Regions from separate parts of the Homo sapiens genome. Here all the other regions are reported to be linked to region 2. Evidence: microRNA targets listed by miRTarBase, many of them from high-throughput screens and not tested one by one. Region 2 holds a microRNA gene; each other region holds the end of a gene's coding sequence.

Evidence for each region. Region 2 holds the annotated microRNA hsa-miR-545-3p (UCAGCAAACAUUUAUUGUGUGC, at 2,057-2,078, shown strand). A microRNA usually pairs through its seed, bases 2 to 8, with sites in the 3' UTR of a target mRNA and lowers its output. Matches are read on the target gene's strand: a 7mer-m8 pairs with bases 2 to 8, a 7mer-A1 pairs with bases 2 to 7 and ends in A, and an 8mer does both.
Region 1: the mRNA of PDCL3 is a reported target of hsa-miR-545-3p. The part of its 3' UTR that is shown has no 7-base or 8-base seed match.
Region 3: the mRNA of GRAMD2B is a reported target of hsa-miR-545-3p. Seed matches in the 3' UTR shown: 7mer-m8 at 4,329-4,335 and 8mer at 3,627-3,634.
Region 4: miRTarBase lists LSM11 as a target of hsa-miR-545-3p. Seed matches in the 3' UTR shown: 7mer-m8 at 2,614-2,620.

The regions. Positions count from the first base shown.
Region 1 is chr2:100,575,892-100,580,891 of GRCh38, reverse strand. PDCL3 (phosducin like 3) reads right to left here. Exons shown (of 6, transcript NM_024065.5): 6 at 4,153-4,538. The coding sequence ends at 4,396. It also overlaps the pseudogene LOC124906187. Among named protein-coding and RNA genes, the nearest start is that of PDCL3, 15 kb to the right of the region's middle.
Region 2 is chrX:74,284,027-74,289,203 of GRCh38, reverse strand. MIR545 (microRNA 545) reads left to right here and starts at 1,995; the gene lies at 1,995-2,100. All of the region lies in intron 1 of FTX (FTX transcript, XIST regulator), which reads left to right. It overlaps MIR374A (microRNA 374a), which reads left to right and starts at 1,847; the gene lies at 1,847-1,918. It overlaps LOC124905199 (a long non-coding RNA gene), which reads left to right. Exons shown (of 2, transcript XR_007068266.1): 2 at 1-1,339. RefSeq lists an enhancer at 4,885-5,177.
Region 3 is chr5:126,492,507-126,497,506 of GRCh38, reverse strand. GRAMD2B (GRAM domain containing 2B) reads right to left here. Exons shown (of 14, transcript NM_023927.4): 14 at 3,143-4,592. The coding sequence ends at 4,551. Among named protein-coding and RNA genes, the nearest start is that of GRAMD2B, 72 kb to the right of the region's middle. RefSeq lists an enhancer at 4,210-4,765.
Region 4 is chr5:157,754,725-157,759,724 of GRCh38, forward strand. It overlaps LSM11 (LSM11, U7 small nuclear RNA associated), which reads left to right. Exons shown (of 4, transcript NM_173491.4): 4 at 130-5,000. The coding sequence ends at 540. Among named protein-coding and RNA genes, the nearest start is that of LSM11, 14 kb to the left of the region's middle.

The sequences.
Region 1 (5,000 bases), not on the chromosome of region 2:
AGAAAGTAGAAGGAAGGGGGTTAAGCCCACAAAGGGCACATGACAGTTGTCTGTTCCTCCTAGTAGCAGCTTGCCCAGAACTGAACTCCCAGCCAACCACCCACAGCTCAAGAGAGGCCGGGGTTTACTCTTCCAGCGGGTCCCATTGCCACTGGAGTAGAGGGGGAGAATCCTGGATACTGGTGGGCAACCAGCACTCTCTGCCACAGGACCCTAACACTGTTACTACCTGAAGGCCCCATGTCCAGGGAGAAGCGGAAATCAAGACGGATGATTACTGAAGCAAAGAATGGGGTAGAGAATGTGGTCAAAAGCAGAGAGGGAGGGAGGGGACTTGGAAACAGGCACATCTTCACTTGAGACTGACAGCCACCTGTCTCTAAGGTTATATCTGTGAGTAATAGCTGGTTTCTGTAAGCAGGACAAAAGCACTTTCTTTTTTTTTTTTTGGAGACAAAATTTCACTCTTGTTGCCCAGGCTGGAGTGCAGTGGCGCAATCTTGGCTCGCTGCAATCTCCACCTCCCAGGTTCAAGCACTTCTCCTGCCTCAGCCTCCCAAGTAGCTGGAATTATAGGGCGCTACCATGCCCAGCTAATTTTTGTATTTAGTAGAGATGGGGTTTCACCATGTTGGTCAGGCTGGCCTGGAACTCCTGACCTCAGGTGATCCACCCACCTCGGCCTCCCAAGGTGCTGGGATTACAGGTGTGAGTCACTGTACCCGGCCCCTTTCATGGGAGCATGTTTCTCACGCAGGCGCTGCAGTCACAACACTTGTTGCCTGCCATACCTGAAAGGTAGTTGGTCAAGATTTGGGATTATAGGCTGGGCGCGGTGGCTCACACCTGTAGTCCCAGCACTTTGGGAGGCCGAGACTGGTGGATCACGAGGTCAGGAGATCAAGACCATCCTGGCTAACACGGTGAAACCCCATCTCTACTAAAAATACAACAACAACAAAAAAATTAGTGGGGCGTGGTGGAGGGCGCCTGTAGTCCCAGCTACTCGGAAGGCTGAGGCAGGAGAATGGTGTGAACCCAGGAGGCGGAGTTTGCAGTGAGCCAAGATCACGCCACTGCACTCCAGCCTGGGCAACAGAGCAAGACTCCGTCTCAAAAAAAAAAAAATATATATATATATATATATATATATTTGGGATTATATAAGAAGGTTGAGTTTAAAGCTGGAGGTAATAAATGCCAAAAAAAAAAAAAAAAAAACTTTTGGCCCTCCCTGATGACAGAGGGACACCCTTCTAAATTGCCCTTCCATCTCTCTCATAGATGCCTTTCATAGCCAGCAGAACTGTTTTTTTTTTTTGTTGTTTTTTTTTTTTTTGAGACAGAGTCTCACTCTGGCACCTAGGCTGGAGTGTGCAGTGGTGTGCTTGGCTCACTGCAACCTCCACCTCCCGGGTTTAAGTGATTCTCCTGCCTCAGCCTCCCAAGTAGCTGGGATTACAGGCGTTGTGCCACCATGCCCTGCTAATTTTTTGTATTTTTAGTAGAGTTGGGGTTTCACCATGTTGGCCAGGCTGGTCTCAAACTCCTATCCTCAGGTGATCTGCCCCTCTTGGCCCCCCAAAGTGCTGGGATTACAGGCATCAGCCACCTCGCCCAGCCCAGCGCAACTTTCTGAAGTCCTTCTGAACCACCAGGAAGCGGCTCAGCTGTAGGTCTCTGCAGAAGCAATGACTCAGGGCGTGAGAAGGTGAAGTTAGGTGTGCAATGAAGGAGGTGTATGTCATCTATCCACATCCTTTCTCTCCTCCACAAAAGAAGGAAGTATTTGATTATACAATCCTATCAATTTCACTATTCCCAATCATTTATTATCCCAATTTTCTGGAACCATTTCCCACCAATCACTTAAGAAAGGGCTACCCCAGCCGGGCACAGTGGCTCACAACTGTAATCCCAGCACTTTGGAAGGCTGAGGCGGGTGGATCGCTTGAGCCCAGGAGTTTGAGACCAGGCAGGCAACATGGTGAAACTCTGTCTCAACATAAAATACAAAAAAAAAAAAAAAAAAAAAATTAGCCTGGTATGGTGGTGCTCACCTGTAGTCCCAGCTACTCAGGAGGATGAGGTGGGAGAATCGCTTGAACTTGGGAAGTTGAGGCTGCAGTGAGATGAGATCATGCCACTGCATTCCAGCCTGGGCAACTGGAGACCCTGTCTCAAAAAAAAAAAAAAAAAAGTGGGGGCGGGGGGGTGGCTACCTAGCACCGGCTTAACCTTTCCCCACAACCCTTCCCTCCAAGCACAGAAGACAGCTTCCAGGTGTCCTTGTGTCCCCCACTGGTCACTGCTGTGTTCCTGCTGTGGAACTGGGGGAACTCAGTGCTTAAGCACCAAGTCTTACACCTCTGTCGTATCACTAATGTGCCAAAGGAATTAGAAAGAAGATAATAGTATTACAGGGAAGTCTCCGAGAATTAATCAGGGCTCATTTGCCAATGCCACAGGCACCTGAGCTTTTGCTGTGCTCGAACTAAATGCCTTCATCTGGTGTGCAGACAAAATTATGAGGTGCAGTTTTCACACTTTGATTGAAGTGGCACAGCTAATAATTTAGAATTAGATCCTGTGTGGGCTTCATAGTGGACTCAAGCTCTTATCTGTCACTGTGGACGCTGCCCCCTGTTCATGCACCACCTTTTTTTCTTTGTAAATGTGCACATTAAGGCTCTCAGGCACATGCAGAATTGAACTTTCCACCTTTGCTCTTCCCTCAAGATCTCATGTCAGCTACCAAGACCAAAATCTAAGAAGGTAGCTCTCCTACAAACCCCACGGAACCAGCATCCAAGTAAGAGGACTGACCAAATTTGTTCCAACCCTGCAATTCCATGAAACACTTTCAAAGTACACCACCAGGGAATATGTTATTGGCAGTGCTGGCTCTAGTGTATGTGGGCGGGGTGCAGTGACTCACACCTGTAATCCCAACATTTTGGGAGTCGAAGATGGCAGGATTACTTGAGCCCAGGAGCTCAAGACCAGCCTGGGTAACACAGGGAGACTCCATCTCTATTTAAAAAAAAAAAAAAAAAAAAGGAGGGGGTGGAATCCAAATATCTAAGACAGATACTTCTGATAAAATGGGTCCAAGTTGCTTGTCATTCTTTGAATTAAAGCAAAAATAAATTTTACAACATAATCTAAAAGAAATCCATGCTGATTCTTATTTCAGATTCAAACCAGCACTAAGTAATACATCATTCAACACAAATATCAGAAAATAATATTTCCTAATTGTTCAGTATCAATGTTTGTTAAGTGAGAAATACAGGATCTGGCTCACAAAACATCTTGATACGTTGTTTTTTCATGTCATATGGGTAATGTGCCAACAGCCTAACGATATTTGAGGGGGGCACATCTCACATACGTGATCGTACTTATGAACCACAAAATGAGTTTATTAACAGTTTATTTATGTGTATGCTTATATATTTCCATAAATTTAATGTCTTCTTATAGTAATCAAAATTAGTTAACAGGCCAGGCATGGTAGCTCACACCTGTAATCTCAAAACTTTGTGAAGCCGAGGCGGGTGGATCAGGAGTTTTGAGGTTGGGAGTTCGAGACCAGCCCGGCCAACATGATGAAACTCCGTCTCTGCTAAAAGTACAAAAATTAGATGGGCGTGATGGTGCACGTCTGTAATCCCAGCTCCTCAGGAGGCTGAGGCAGGAGAATTGCTTGAACCCGGGAGGTGGAGGTTGCAGTGAGCTGAGATTGTGCCACTGCACTCCAGCCTCAGCAACACAGAAAAGCTCCATCTCAAAAAAAAAAAAAAATTAGTTAACAGTCTGAGATAAACTATTTTAACAAGAAAACACATTTAACCAAATATGGCAGTAAACTGGAAACTTTCAGTTATTGCTTCAATAAGGGAATGTTTCACAAAAATTGTCTGTTTCTTCAATACTAACATTCTTTTGTCCTAGAGACCATTCCTGTAGTTTAATAATCTCACTGCTCTCTTTATAAAATAAAAATAAACAATGTATCTATAAGGCTTAGTCTGCAATTTTCCACTGTATAATTTATTCACATTTAAAACTGTATTTCTTTTTATAGTTATATGTCAAAAAATAGTGACTAGGTTTTATGGCTTACTTAAAATATAAATGAGGAAAACAGACATTTGCCATACAAATGGCTGGTTTTAATTTTTTTTAGAGGAAATACTATAATTTAAAAAAAAAAAGAGTTCCAAAATATTTAACAGAATCTCCAGCAATGATTATTTCCAAAATGTAAAGATTTGAAACATAATTTATACAAAACTAAAAACCACAAGGATTCATTCTTGCTTTTTCCTTTTTTAAAAAATCCAGACAATTTGTCACAAGAAAGTTCGGCATGTGATAGAAGCTGTAGCCTCAGTCACCCTCGGAATCGCTGTCCCTCTTCATGAGGACAGAGCGCCGCACTGAGGACAGCAACACGTCTTCAATCGGCTTCTTAGGGTTTTCCTCCAGGTCTGTCATAATTGCTCCAGATTCAGACAGTTTCCATTCCAACTCTATATGGTAAAGAAAAAGCAAATTGCCTAAGGCACTGTGCTGCAAAGGTTCCCTCGCCCTAAGTCCATCAACCTAGTTTTTTCTAAGTAGAAAATACAATTATCGAAATTTGGCCCAGCACAATGGCTCACGCCTGTAATCCCAACACTTTGGGAGGCTGAGGCAGGAGGATCACCTGAGCCTGGGAGGTAGAGGTTGCAGACATTTAAGATCACACCACTGCACTCCAGCCTGGGCAGCAGTGAGACTGTCTCAACAATAAAAATAAAAGTAAATAAAACATAAAAATTCACTGGGTACAGTGGTGGTGTGTGCTTATAATCCCAGCTGTTTGGGAGGCTGAAGTGGCAGGATCGCTTGAGCCCAGGAGTTCAAGGCTGCAGTGAACCATGATCATGTCACTGCACTCCAGCCTACACGACAGAGCGAGACCCTGTCTCAAAAATACAAAGAATAAACCT
Region 2 (5,177 bases):
CAGGCTTGTCTTGAACTCCTGGGCTCAAGTGATTTTCCCACCCCGGCTTCCCAAAATGCTGGGATTACAGGGGTGAGCCACCATACCTGGCCGATATCTTTGTTTTGTGATACAGTTCTCTGATTATTAGTGAGGCTGGACTTTTAGATCTTAATTACTAGCTCTTATTTCCTTTTGTGAATTATTCAATTTGTGCCTGAATGTTATTTGTAAGTTGCAAATGTCGTTTGTTGCAGATATGCTCCCAGTAATATTTGTTGCCATTGAGTCTGAAGAAATGTTTGCAATTCCAAATATAACTGCTGTGTGGATACATGTCTGGTTCTTGGTAGCCATTTTGAGATAACATTTGTCTGACCTCTATCTTATTTTTGTTTTTATTTTTAGAGTGGAGGTCTTGCCCAGGCTGGTCTCGAACTCCTGGGCTCAAGCAATCTTTCTGCCTCCGCCTCCCAAAGTGCTGGGATTACAGGCATAAGCCACCTTACCCAGCCTTGTCTGACCTTTAAACAGAAATCCATTTCTTTTTATCTAAAAGGAAAGCACTTTTGAGTACTGTACAACAGTGGTGCTTCCTGGCTCTGGGCATGGGGAGAAGACAGGGCAACATTTTGTCCCTAATGAGAAACTAATTTAGACAAGAAACAAAACAGCGGTCCCTTCTCCCCCATCCATTCAGGGACTGGTCTTATTTTAAATATTTCTGAGTGGTCTGAGGGAGGATATGGGCAATATTGAAGTGTCCACATTTATACATACTGTTAAATGCTTTGGGGATGTGAAATGCTAATAGGAACACGCTAGCATGTGAGAAGGCACCAGGAGTGGGCTAATTGGCAGAAAGGAACAGTGTATAGGCAAGAGCAGTGAAATAACTTTAGGGGAAAATAGTATGTTAAGCTTATTAAATAACAGCCTCATAGAGACATTGGGTCCCAAAACAGTGATCTCAGTATAACTGTCAACAACTTGCTGATGTTATCAGCCCTATTTGCTGGTCAGAGACAAAAAAGCCAGTAAAAACCTAGGTATTATTAAGAAAGGTATGAGGCACAGAAAAATGCCATCTTATCTTTGTATAAAACCATCTGAACCAAATAACTATTACAGTAATAATCTTGCCTCAAGGAGTCTGTTACTATCACTCACATGATTTTGAAAAGGGAGTGGGCAGAGTGTGTTATCTCTCTGTTTCATTTTTCTTGTTTATAATACATAGGTGAATTAGATATTCTCAAAGGTCTTGGAGGGGTCTAATTCTGGTTTCCTGAAACTGAATGTTATTTCTAGTTTAGAGAATCTGTTTAATTATGTTTATTAAATAAACTTTTCTAACTTATTCCTACTCTGATCTGTATATTATCTATTTTGTATTTAATAACATTCTAACTTTTTTTTTCCAGTGAAGGATGAGGATTATTGGATTTAGAAGTGCCAAATGAGCTATTACTTACTGCTTTTTGCTATCCGGTTACACTGGGTTAATCCAGTTAGTTGTAAGCTCCCATTTTTCAGCATTTTGCTAGCTGTAGATATTAAACCAGGCTCATGTGGGTAGTAGGGTGGGGAGGTTAAGAGGAGTATAAGCAAAAAGGAAAAAAAAAAGCTCATATTTTAGAGGAGGGGATTGAGAAGTTCCTTTATTGGAAGTCTGTGCATGGAAGTCCCATTTTACATCATGCCAGTGTCTAGTTCCCAATTCCGTCTATGGCCACGGGTTAGGGAAAGCCTGAATATTTGAAATAACCGAAAAGCATTTAACCTTTGATTTCTATAATTTGTTCCTCACCTCTCTTGATGTTACAGCCAGCAGCAGCCTGGAGCAGCACCCCCTGGGAAGAAATTTTACATCGGCCATTATAATACAACCTGATAAGTGTTATAGCACTTATCAGATTGTATTGTAATTGTCTGTGTATATGCCTGTCTCTCTTCCTGTTATCAGTTAGACTGTGAGCTCCTTGAGGGCAAGGAAGGTGTCTTCATCTCCAGAGCCCAGCCTGGCACATTAGTAGGCCTCAGTAAATGTTTATTAGATGAATAAATGAATGACTCATCAGCAAACATTTATTGTGTGCCTGCTAAAGTGAGCTCCACAGGCTCTGGATTGTCAGCTGTTTCTTCAAAAAGCATGTGGTCAGAAATTTGATATTTCTGTATATATCTTCCTAAGAGTTTCTCATGAGACAATGCCATTTTTGTGTTTGGATTTCAGTCCTTGATATTTACAGATGTTGCAACTGTTGCTATTGCTGACACTTGCTTTCTTGGTGGGACTTGAGTGATAACTGTTAGATTGGGGCCTCATCCTCAGGGCCCAGGTAATCATCCAAATAGTATTCTTAGATAGGACTTTGCATTTTTCTTTCTTTTTTTTTTTTTTTTAAGGGACAGGTTCTCACTCTGTTGCCCAGGCTGGAGTGCAATGGTGCGAACACGGGTCACTGCAGCCTCGAACTCCTAGGCTCAGGTGATCTTCCACCTCAGCATTCTGAGTTAGGACTATAGGTGTGTGCCACCACCCCTGGCTAATGTTTGTATTTTTCGTAGAGAAGGGGTCTCGTTATGGTGCCCAGGCTGTTCTTGAACTCCTGGACTCAAGCGATCTACCTCCCTCAGCCTCCCAGAGTGCTGGGATTACAGGTGTGAGCCACTGCACCCAACCAGACTCCATATTCTAAACCAAGGGTGGGCAAACTTTATTGCCCATGGGCTACCTGTTTTTGTAAATACCATTCTATATTGGAACACAGCCATGTTCATTCATCGATGTTTTACCTGGGGCCGCTTTTGCGGCCCAGTGGCACAATTAAGTAGCTATTAGGTTGGTGCAAAAGTAGTTGCTGTTTTTGCCATTAAATATATTGGAGACATTGTGGCCCACAAAGCCTTTGTAGAAAAAGATCTGTGCCCACTCTGGATCATCACTCGACAGTGATGGTTTCATTTCTCATTCCATTCACCAGACCAGAAATTCATATTTATTTACTTCATTTGTCATTGCTTGTGACAAGTCTTTTTCCTCTTTTACAGATAAGCCAGCTAAGACATGTTTTAAAGTAGAAGATTATAAGACCTCCCCCAGGGTCCTGCAGTCAGTCAGTTATACCCTGCCCTTCAACATCAAGCTTTGAACCTCTACTCTAGAAATACCTTTTATTATATTCAAACTTGAAGCACGTGGACATAGCATGCTTTGGTGCCTTCGTCCTTGCCCCCCTCCTTCCTACACAGTTCTTTGCAATGAGAATATGGGAAATAAGGACTTAATGTGAGATAAGGCAGAAAGGTAAGCTGAGGCAAATGTTTAGAGGGTCCCTAACACTAATTTTTAAATGAAGAAGTGGGGTGTCTGAAATACTCATTTATTTAGATGTATACAGATAGTGAGCCTAGACTTCCAAGAGCTTAGAGCCCCTCCCCTTGTGCCTCCCCAACTTTACATGTACTATCTTGGTAACCTGCCTATGAATACATGTTGATTCATTTCACTTCATTAAAAAGTCGGAGAGCTCAAAGTCATATTTGAGAAAGCTAAATCTAAAACAAAATGGAGGAAACACTGAATAGGTTCATCTCGTTGGATAGGATCATCCTAGGAATAAAATATAATAGAAGGAAAGGTCTTACAGCCATATTTTTAAAGCTGCTTGCTGGATTTTTCCCAAAATTGTATTGTGAAAGTTGTCAAACATACATACAGAAAAGTTGAAAGAATTGTACGGTGAAAAGCCATGTACCCAACACCTAGATTTTATAATTAACATTTAACTATACAGTCATGTGTTGCTTAAAGACAGGATATGTTCTGAGTAATGGATCATTAAGTCATTTTGTTGTTGTGTGAACATCATAGGGGAGTGTACTTATACAAACCTAGATGGTATAGCTTACTACACACCTAGGCTATATGGTATAGCCTATTCCTCCTAGGCTACAAACCTGTACAGCATGTTGCTGTATTGAATACTGTAGGCATTTGGAATACAGTGGTAAGTATTTGTATATCCAAACATATCTAACATAGAAAAGGTACAGTAAAAACGTGGTGTTATTATCTTATGGGACCACCATTGTATATGCGCCTGTGACTGAAATGTTACTATAAGATTCAGGACTGTTTGTGTTATCACAGTAACTCATCTTTGTTGAATAGGTTTTAAAAATCTGTCTGTCTTCTGTGTTAATGTCATCTGTATCTGACCCATCATGGTGCTGAAAAAGCTTCTTTTCATTCTTATTTTTGTCTTCTAAGTCAGCATGAATACCAGCACAGCCCAACTATGTGTAAGCAGATCTGTGCAGGAATGAGAGTCCCAGGGAGAGAATCCACGTTGTTTCTGAAAGAAAATGGCTATAGCTCACTGTTGTTTACTGGAAATAGTAGGGGGAAGGAAAGATGGAAGTCCAGGTCCAGTGTCATATACTGCCCTGCACCTTACTCACTTCTCTGCCTTTAGGGTAGGTGGTTTTCTGAGCAGCTTCTGCTTGGTTCTCTCCTTTAAGGCTTGCTAAAGGAGAAACAACAATGTCATATTGAAATGCCAATGAGGCAATATTTAGCATTAGAATAACTTTGGAATTCTAGCAAATGGAATTTTAATTTGGGCTACTGTCTAATAGTATTCTTTGAGCCTTTTCTGTTAGCAACAGCTGCAGTTTCAATTAGGAAGCACCATGAAATTTTGTTTATCTTTATCCATGGACATGATAATGGTAAATGTTACCTGTTTGTGTCTCTCTCCTTTGATTTAAACTCAAGGGTAGAGATGTGTTTTACTGATCTTTGCAAATCTCTTACACTGTAAGATTTGTATTCATTTATAGGGATATACCCCCAAATATATGTTTAACATTATTTAAAAAAAGATTTAGATATGGGCATATTCACGGTGTTCATAACAGTAAATAATGGAAAAACTTACCTAGTCATGAATAGGAACTTGGTTAAATACATTTTGGTGTATTCATGTAATGGGACAGCATAGCCATTAAAAATAAAAATAGTCTTGAAGATAAATATTTGACTTGGAAAGAAGTATACAGTATATTAATTGAAAAAGGGCTAAAGGGCAATAGTATAGTTTCATCTAATCATTGTAAAATAAGAATTCATGTTTGTGTATGTACATGGAAGTTGTTGGATGAACATACCCCAAGTGTTAAACTTTTCTGGG
Region 3 (5,000 bases), not on the chromosome of region 2:
ACTTTGGGAGGCCGAGGCGGGCAGATCACTTGAGGTCAGGAGTTCGAGACCAGCCTGGCCAACATGGTGAAACCCCATCTCTACTAAAAAAACAAAAATTAGCAGGGCATGGTGGCAGGTGCCGTAATCCCAGCTACTCAGGAGGCTGAGGCAGGAGAATTGCTTGAACCCGGGGGCAGAGGTTGTAGTGAGCTAAGATTGCACTACTGCACTCCAGCCTGCGCAACAGAGTGAGACTGTCTCAAAAACAAAACAAAACAAAAAAACAAAAATGATCCATTGAGATAGTGAGTTTGTCTGTGAGAAGCAAGGGCCATTTTTCCCTTCCACTTTTCATTACCACATACTGTGATTATTGGTATGGTGGATGCTCCGTGTGTGTGTAGACAGAAAAAAAGAGGCACTACATAGAGTGGTTAGAAACAGAGATAAGAGAAACTACAAGAGATAAACAGAATCAGGTCTCCAGTTTTTTGTTTTTTTTTTTTCAAATTAGAAAAGGGCTTAGCATCTAGACACAACAAAGAAGTGCTGGAAATTCAGTGATCAAAGATACTTCATGTAACGACTCTGGTGTTTTTTTTTTTTTTTTTTGGCAAGAATATGGTAACATGATGGTAATTAGCAGGGAGAGGTGTAAAAGAAGCATATGAAAATAATATTATATCACTGGGCTTCTTTGTCAGTGGGTCAGGTTATGACCTCAAATGGCAGTATAACTATTACTGATGTGTAGAATTTTGACTTAAAAAAATGCTTGAGAGTAAAATCACCTGAGCTATCCATAATGCATTAGTGTCCATATCCTTTAGATCACCAGAAACAAAAAAATAAGAAAGCATCACCTGAATTTTACTATTGTTAGGATATACAAATCAAAATAGCATAAAAGATAACTCATATTTAAGTCAGAATTTTTGTTTTGGCCTGACTCCATGAATTTATGAAATTGTGTAAGGCAAGGAAAAGGCATTTAAAAAATGTCTCTGGGCTGGGCGAGGTGGCTCACATTTGTAGGTGGATTGTTTGAGCCCAGGAGTTCAACACCAGCCTGGGCAACATGGAAAAACCTGTCTCTACTAAAAATACAAAAAATTAGCTGGGTGTGGTGGTGTGCACCTGTAGTCCCAGCTACTTGGGAGGCTGAGGCGAGAGGATAGGTTGGGAGGTAGAGGTTCCAGTGAGCCGAGATTGCGCCACTGTACTCCAGCCTGGGCGATGATAGAGTGAGACCCTATCTGAAAAAAAAAAAAAAGTATCTTGGTTGGTTTCAAGGAATTGCATAAATGAATACCTGGGAAATGCTTTGGAGTATTGTGGAGTATATATAGGAAGGTATCTTAAATGTTTACAAAGTTTGAGAGGGCAACAATAATAATAATAGCATTTCCAGCTTATGGAAGATTGGTAATTTCTATTCACCAAAATAGTATGTATTTAATTATATTATAAAATATTAGAGTGCATAGAAATAGTATTACAACTGATAATCTTTTTAAGATTACACGTTTTGAAGGGCCAAATATATTGTGGACATTTGCTATTACTTTGGCCATTCAGCATCTGAAACCCCATGTTAGAATTCCCATTTATAACCTAGTTGGTAGAGGCGTAAAAATCCCAGATGCTTGCTTTCCCTCGCTTTGTAGTTAGTATGCAGGCTTATAACCTGGATTTCACCATTCGGATCTAGCTGCACCAGATTTTCACTTGGAAGCTAGTAAAGGAAAACCAAACAAACAATAGTATCCGCAAAGAAACAATAACTAAACCTAGGAATGGTGGAGCTGTCTTTCGCTCTGGATGAGTCAACTGTAGTGGTTGATGGAAAATAAAGTTTCAGTTAAAGAACTAGCAGCCATGTTGTGGGGGGTGGGAGTTGTGAGTTCTGATTCCTTGCAGAGAGCCACCTAATCTTGTAAATTAACTTATCTGATTAAAAAAAGGTAACGACTTCATTATACAAAACCTGTAGGATACAGAAAAGGTGTGTGGGCTTCTGTGTGTATGTATGTATGCATATACATATAAATATATATATATATATATATACACACACACATTGAGGGTTTTCTTCTTAAAGTTGGGATCATACCCTATAGTTTTATGTCTTTTAATGCAATTTTCGATATTTTCTATGCCTTTCTTTGACAATGCAATTTTAAATAACTGCATCATTTAACTGTTCTTCTATTGAATATTTAGACTCTCTAATATTTTGCTGTCAGAGGTTTCAAAGAATATTCTTGTATATAAACTTTACTATACTTCTGATTGTTGCTTTAGGATAAATTCCTAGATGGCAGATTACTAAAACTGAGTGAAATCTGAGGCTTTTTAAAGCTCTTGATATGGTTATAAAGTTGTTCTCCAGAGGTGGCTGACCCACTCTTGAATCACTAATGGGTTTTGAATAGAAAGTGCTGACACTGAACTTTAATAAAACTGTAATGTCAGACATAAATTTTTTTTTTTTTTGAGACAGAGTCTCGCTCTGTCGCCCAGGCTGGAGCGGCAGTGGCATGATCTGGGCTCACTGCAACCTCCACCTCCTGGGTTCAAGTGATTCTCCTGCCTCGGCCTCCCAAGTAGCTGGTACTACAGGTGTGCAAAAATATTTTTTAAAATAATGACTATTGTAGCTGTTATGAAAGCATACTACTTGCCTGACATGGCTATGTGCTTTAGAGACATCATCACATTGACTGATTGATTGACTGAGACAAGGTCTTGCTTTGTCACTCAGGCTAGGGTGCAATGGTGTGATCGTGGCTCACTGCAGCCTCAGTCTCCCAGACTTCAGCAATTCTCCTGAGTAGCTGGGACTATAGGCATGCATCACCACACCTGGCTAATTTATTTTTATTTTTAGTAGAAATGGGATCTTGCTGCGTTGTCCAGGCTGATCACAACCTCCTGAGCTCAAGCAGTCCTCCTGCCTTGGCCTCCGAGAATGCTGGGATTATAGGCATGAGCCACTGCACCTGGCTGACATTATCACATTTAATCCTCACACTGATACTTTTTACTGGTACTTTCAACCTCATCAATAAAATGGGGGGATATGGCCAAATATTTTGCTAAAGGTCACATAACTCATAAATGTGGACTGAGGAATGAAGCATTGTCTTTTTTTTTTTTCTTTTTTTTTTGACTTCAAAGTTCATTTTCTTTCCTTTAAACCGTTGTAACCCAAGAACTTAAATCCTTTTTTAGTTTTGAAATGATTACTTGGGAGGAAGGAAGTATAAGTGAGTTGGTAGTAGTAGATGGCAGGTGGAAAAAGAGTTAAAAAGCATAGTTAAGTCTTGGTTAAAGGAATTTACGAACTGACAAAACACAGTGTTAGCAGGGTGTTTCAACCAATGAGTATTTATTAAAAGCCAGAGGTGCACCAGGCACAGCTGTCCACTAGGCCAACAGATACAAACGATGTAACCAATTCGCTTATTAGCTTATCTGATTAAATAAAATACATTTCATAGAAATGATTATCAAATGCATTGCAGATAGAAACAGAATATCCTTTGTACTTACAGATCTTATGATACCCTAAACAATTATTAATAAAAACCAGCCAACCCATATGGTAAATAGTTAGCAAACCACCAGTTATTTTATTTTAGTCAGCAAAGGATAAAAACATACAAATTTCATGCTGAAAGGGATTTTAGCATTATTGAATGCTGAATACAGACATCCTGCTTGAAAACTACTAACATAGTCCACCTACAGTCTTAAAAATTCAGTGTTTTTCATCCTGTATTAAATCACTATTACACCTTTTGGCTTAAAAATTAGGTTTGGTTTCAAAATAAGTTTAATTTAGTACTTCAGTCACATGCCTCACAGATTCTTGACCAGGGCTGGGTAAGAATCAGTCCAATTAACTATTAGTTACAGCAACAAAACAAAACATAAACATAATGTTAAATTCACCTTGCTTGATATTCTTGCCAAAAAGGAATTGAGAAATTAAGACACACAGGTGATTTCAACCAGAACATAACAGGAGAACTGAAAAAAAAAAGACAAAATGTAGATGTTACTTGTTTGAAGCAAACCTGTCCACTTAGAGCCATTTATTGCCTTTTTGAGACTCATGGCTAATTCTTGAAAGGACCACATTGAGTTTGTCAGTATATGATGTATCCTTTAGTTTGAAAGTCGTTAAGAGGGGTGTAAGGGAGAGGCAGGAGGGCGGGAAGGACTAAAAAGGCACAGGGTGGAGTGTTTGCTGACGCCATCGTGGTAATTATCCAAGAGAGTGTGTTCGCTGGGCCCTTCCTGAGACCTCCAGAGATGGGTCTGTTTTCTTCAGGCAAAAGCAGCAAAATCTTCCTCAGAGAGTCAAGGTCAACTTTTATTGCACAAGAACCAAAATTATTTCCCTCCTCACTTTCCTGAGCTGGAGACCTCCACATGCAATGTCTGGATTCTCATCTGCTTGCACCTCTGACCAGCAGGGTGCACTCAAACAAAACGCCTCAGGAAGCACCTTCTTCAAAGGGAAACATGAGGTATTCCGATGGCCCAAGCAATCTGGTCGATCAGTCACCATTCTCAAGCAACTTCTGTAAGTTATTTTGTATCTTGAAATAAAAGAAAAGAAGTTCCTATTATTAAATAGAATGGAGTATATTAAGGGCATATTTGTTATAGTCTATATAGCATTCTATATTATTCCACTTTGAATAAAAAGCTACAAAAGGGTTAAATTTAGGTGAGGCAAATAGATGCTTTTTCATAGACTAGAACTCTGACAATCCACTTTTTCTTTGGGAAAAAGAAAGGGTCTCGCTCTGTCACCCAGGCTGGAATGCAGTGACGTGATCATGGTTCACTGCAGCCCTGACTTCCTGGGCTCAAGTGATCCTCCCACCTCAGCCTCCCAAGTAGCTGGGACTTCAGGCGTGCACCATCATGCCTGGCTAATTTTTGCACTTTTTGTATACATGGAGTTTCATCATGTTTCTCAGGCTGATCTAGAACTCCTGGGC
Region 4 (5,000 bases), not on the chromosome of region 2:
AACTTTTAAAAAATTGCAAAGCAAGGAGTCCACAGAACATAATTAAAGAATTTGGTCTTTTTCTGTATGTTGAAAGAGGGTGATGAAGGCTAAAGAGAAGGCTAATATTTATCATTGTTTGCTTTATAGCTATTTGATCGGCTGAAACTTCAAGATTCCTCCAAGAAGGAAGCAGATTCTAAGTCTGCAGTTGAAGATTCCACTCTGTCTAGATACTCACAGACATCCACTTGGAAGTTGGCTTCAGTGTGGGGAAGAGCAGACACTGGCCGGGGCTCACACAAGCGTTCCCGCTCTGTCCCTTCTTCCCTGCAGGCCTCTGCAAGGGAGGAGTCCAGGTCAGAGCTGTCAGGGAGGACTACACGGACAGACGGCTCCAGTGTGGGAGGTACCTTTTCCAGGGCTACCACCCTTTCCAGAGGCCAGTCCCGTAAGAAAAAGCGAAAGCCCAAAGTGGATTACCAGCAGGTATTCACTCGACACATAAATCAGATTTTCATTCGAGGCGAGAATGTCCTGCTGGTTCATCTTGCACAGTGACCAGCTCAGCCTGAGCTTTGGTTTTTAGAAATAAAGTGCATGAATTGCTGCTATGCTGTATCCTAGTATCCCAGTGAAACTCTGAGTTGGAATGATTCCCTCTGGTCCTGCATATGCAGAGGACGGAGCAGGCTCAGCCCCCTGGAAGATGAGCTCAAGGGGAGGACAGGCCTTGGGAGGGCAGGCGTTTGCATTAATATCAAGGCAAAAAGCATTCATAGATACATGCATCTGATTTGGTATTGTGATTTACTTCAGACCCTGAAACCAAATATCTGATCTTCCATTAGACTTAGGGGTCATGATATGAGTGGAATTTACATTTTAGATACTATAGGGGAAAGAAAAGTCTCAAAAAGAAGTATTGCATGTCTAAAAGCTAGTGCCCTGAGTACTCATGAATTCGATTCCAAGAGTAGTGGTGTAAATTGCCTTGGAGCCCTGCATCCACGTCTTGTAACTAACTTTTGAATTTTGCCTGACATGATTCTCTCTTGATGAAGAAATGACATATATTATCTTTGAATATCTACAAGGAAAGTTACCAACTTATGTAGGGGTGAAATTTGGATAGGCGGTATGCTCAAAGCAGCCAGCAATGAGTGCTCTGTTTTGATCCTTCTTCTTATTATGGAAAGGAGTACAGGACCTCTTCAGTCTTCCCCTTACCAGAGGTAGCCTCTGCAAATGGCATACCAGATGGGACTCTAAGATGCTTGTGTGGTGGCTTCTTGTCCTTCTCTTTGACTTCTGTGGCATGGTGCTAGTGCATGTACCCTGTGGTATTGCCCCTCTGTCCGTAGTGTGAACTGTCCTGTGAGCTTTATGTCAGGAGACTGTGACCTTCATGTCCAGCTTCAAAGAGTTGTGCATGAACTCGGTAATACACATCACACGGCTGAGAGTCCCCTTTCCAGGCAGGGCCAGCATGTGTAGAATATCTTTCAGAATATGGTTTCACCATGAAACAGGGGTGGTAGATTTATTCCCTTGTGTCAGGCCAAAGAAGTTCTTACAAAGTACAGTGGGTAGTGTCTAAAGCGACACTTTACTCACAGCCTGGCTTGAGTCAACAGGAACACCATAGCACCCACAAATACTTCTACTTGAATCATATTCTGTGCTTTTTCAATCACTAGTGCAGAATAGGCTGCATTTGACACAGACTGTTAGGCAATATTGATTTTTTTGTTTTGTTTTTATTTGGTTTTATCTGAGATAACTTATGTTCAAGGTGAGAATAAGAAATAGCCAACTAGTTAAAATGTATGAAAAGAAAACTTTCCCCTGCTGTATTTGTTGTGTAACATAAATAAGCCTTCTGAGAAGCAGGGTGAATAAAGTTTAGGGAGCTGGGACACCTGGTCCTGCTAGCTGGACCACTGGCTCATCATGCAATGAAAAGGTGAGCAGACTTAACCCCTCCGTGCCTCAGCTTTTTCCCCACAGACACCTACCTCACAGGGGCATTGAGAAAAAAAAAATGAAGGCATTTTACAGTCTCTAAACATCTTTAAGTGCCATGAGTAATTTTTCCTGACTCTGTTTCATAGCTTTGTAAGAATTCTGTGTCTTTATAAGACACAGAAGCAAGGCAGGTGCTACATAAAAAAGTAATCTCAGCCAGGCACGGTGGCTCACGCCTGTAATCCCAGCACTTTGGGAGGCTGAGGCGGGTGGATCACAAGGTCAGGAGATCAAGACCATCCTGGCTAACACGGTGAAACCCTGTCTCTACTAAAAATACAAAAATTAGCCGGGCGTGGTGGCGGGCGCCTGTAGTCCCAGCTACGTGGGTGGCTGAGGCAGGAGAATGGGGTGAACCCGGGAGGCGGAGCTTGCAGTGAGCCAAGATTGCACCACTGTACTCCAGCCTGGGCGACAGAGCAAGACTCTGTCTCAAAAAAAGGAAAAAAAAAAAAAGTAATCTTAGGGTTCATAGTTATGATCCTGTTGTAACTATCTTCGGAAGGCAGCAGTATCTTCTGGAACTTCCATATTCCATTCCTTCCTCCTAAGGGACAATGGAAGTTCTCAGAAGAGTATCTTCAGTAAGAGGAGAGTAACTTTTTTTTTGCTGCTCCCGCTATATCCCAGGCCTCACCCTTTTCTGATCATTATCAGAAAGAATCCCCTGAACTTTTCAAGGGGTTTATATGGTAGCACCAAATGGAGAATGAGCATCTAAAAATGACACATCCCGAAAGGGCAATCTGTGGAAGTTTGTTGTTTGTTTGTTTTTATTTTTAAATGCATTGTAAAGTGTACTCTAGAGCCAGATCAGGTGCACTAAAGTTTATAGAGGTTCCAGTTTACAAACTCAAGTGAACAGTAATCTTTGGAAGCTGCCAGTCTAAATTCTAAATAGTGTATCTGAAATCTCAGTTCCCAAAATAGTTGTCAGGTTTAATCATCAGGCAACACTGCGTATACCTGTGTGGCTATCCTCATCTGCCTGCCCTCTCATCCCTCGGCTAGAATGATGTACTCTACTTTCCCAATAAGGTAGAAATTTGGAATCCAACGGAATATAATCAGTTTTCATTCATTCCAGTGCCTAGTTAAATCTAACCTGACTTAAACATATGCCTGTTTTTATGTTTACCTATAATTTTCATATAGCCGTATAAGGATTGATTTACCATTTTTTGCCCAACATGACAATTCTGGCTATGAAAATTATGTTTAAACTGTGTATGATCTATTTTATGTGCTCTATGTTCCCATTTGTTTGTTTGGTCTGGACAGTGGTTCTGGAATGAATTCTATCTAGTAAATTAGTAAATGTGCTGTTTTGTATAAAGCATGATAATTACTTTTTAACAGAAGTTCATTTTTAAAGATTACTCCCTTTTCTTTCTCTCTTTTTTTTGAGACAATTTCTCTCTTGTTGCCTAGGCAGTGCAGTGGCGCGATCTCAGCTCCCTGCAACTTCTGCCTCCCAGGTTCAAGCGATTCTCCTGCCTTAGCCTCCTGAGTAGCTGGGTCAGCCACCATGGCTGACTCATTTTTTGTATTTTTAGTAGAGAAGGGGTTTTACCGTGTTAGCCAGGCTGGTCTTGAACTCCTGACCTTGGGTGATCCACCTGCCTCAGCCTCCCAAAGTGCTGGGATTACAGGCGTGAGCTATCCCGCCCGGTCCCCTTTTCTTTATTATCGAAGATATTGTTTAAAAGAAAGAAAAAGTAGGTCCCAATAATATATGTGCTATTCAAAAAATGTGATCATTTAGGACATTATCACAAGTTGCTATGGAAATAACTGAAGACTTCCTCAGGAGAAGGAAAGAAAATGAGGAACATAATGATAGAGTCGGGGAACTCCCACTAGCTCACCTGAGGGGGGCTCGATGCAGCTGAAATACTGAATACTGAAATACTAGAAACCAACAAAACTGGTTTCTAGAATTCTCCAGGGATTTGGGCTTGGGAAACTTGGTAAGAATAGTTTTTATTTTTGAACATTCAACTTTGGTTCTTCAAAGTAATCTTTAAACATGGGAATATGTTTTCAAGACAATTTATAGGACATACTTATGTAGTTGGTGAGGTCTTCTCAAAAGTATCTACCTTTGTTAGATAATAACAAGTGATTAAGAAAGGGGAGATATGGTTTTATACTCATAACAATTTCCTGTGCCATTCTCTGTACACAGAGGTGATTCATTTACTCTCCCATTAGTAGAACTTGCACTTTGGGCTGTCTGTTCTAGTATTTGGGAAGTGTTTATGCTTCCTTCCAGGGACCATCTTATGATCAGAGGCAGGATGTCTGTGAGATGGTTAGCTAGAGTTAGCAGTGTCCGGGGAGAGTGGCTTTAGACCAGTCAGTACCTTGCTCTTTGTGCATGGTGCATGTCAAGTCAGGAAGCCAAGAAACCGTTGGCATTAAAATCTAGATGCATAGAGATCCTTGCTATGAGTTGTGGATAGGAGTGGCTCCATCTATCCTTGTGGTGAAAGAGTCCAGGAGCTCCTTTAGAGATTGTCAAGTCCTGAGCGATGAGCTGCCCTTAATCCTCAGAAGCCTTACAAAAATTGAGATGTACCATTTCTACCCTTTGAGAAAAAAGAAATAGAAACTTACTTGATGCAGAATGGATATTTATATTTCTGCTTGCACCATTTCCATAGCAGCTGACAAAGGCAAAATCATGAAATAGAATCATTTCTATAAATTGCTTCTTTAAGTTTTCTCTAAATTTTGCCTCTAGGAAAAAATTAAAACTATTCAATGACAGCTAGCTGTCACTGGTGCTACCCCAAAGCTTTCCAATCTTTTATGTATTTTTTGTGAATGAAACTGTTGCTGTAGGAAAGTCAAGGTTCATGTAAGAGTATCGTGGTGTAAATATAATGGTTTCACAGCTGTTTGAATTTTTCTTTTCCTGTGCCAGATATAGAATGCAGTCAACCCTTTTTCAGTAACTTATGTTCACCAGTCTGTGCTTTTCTTCTCCC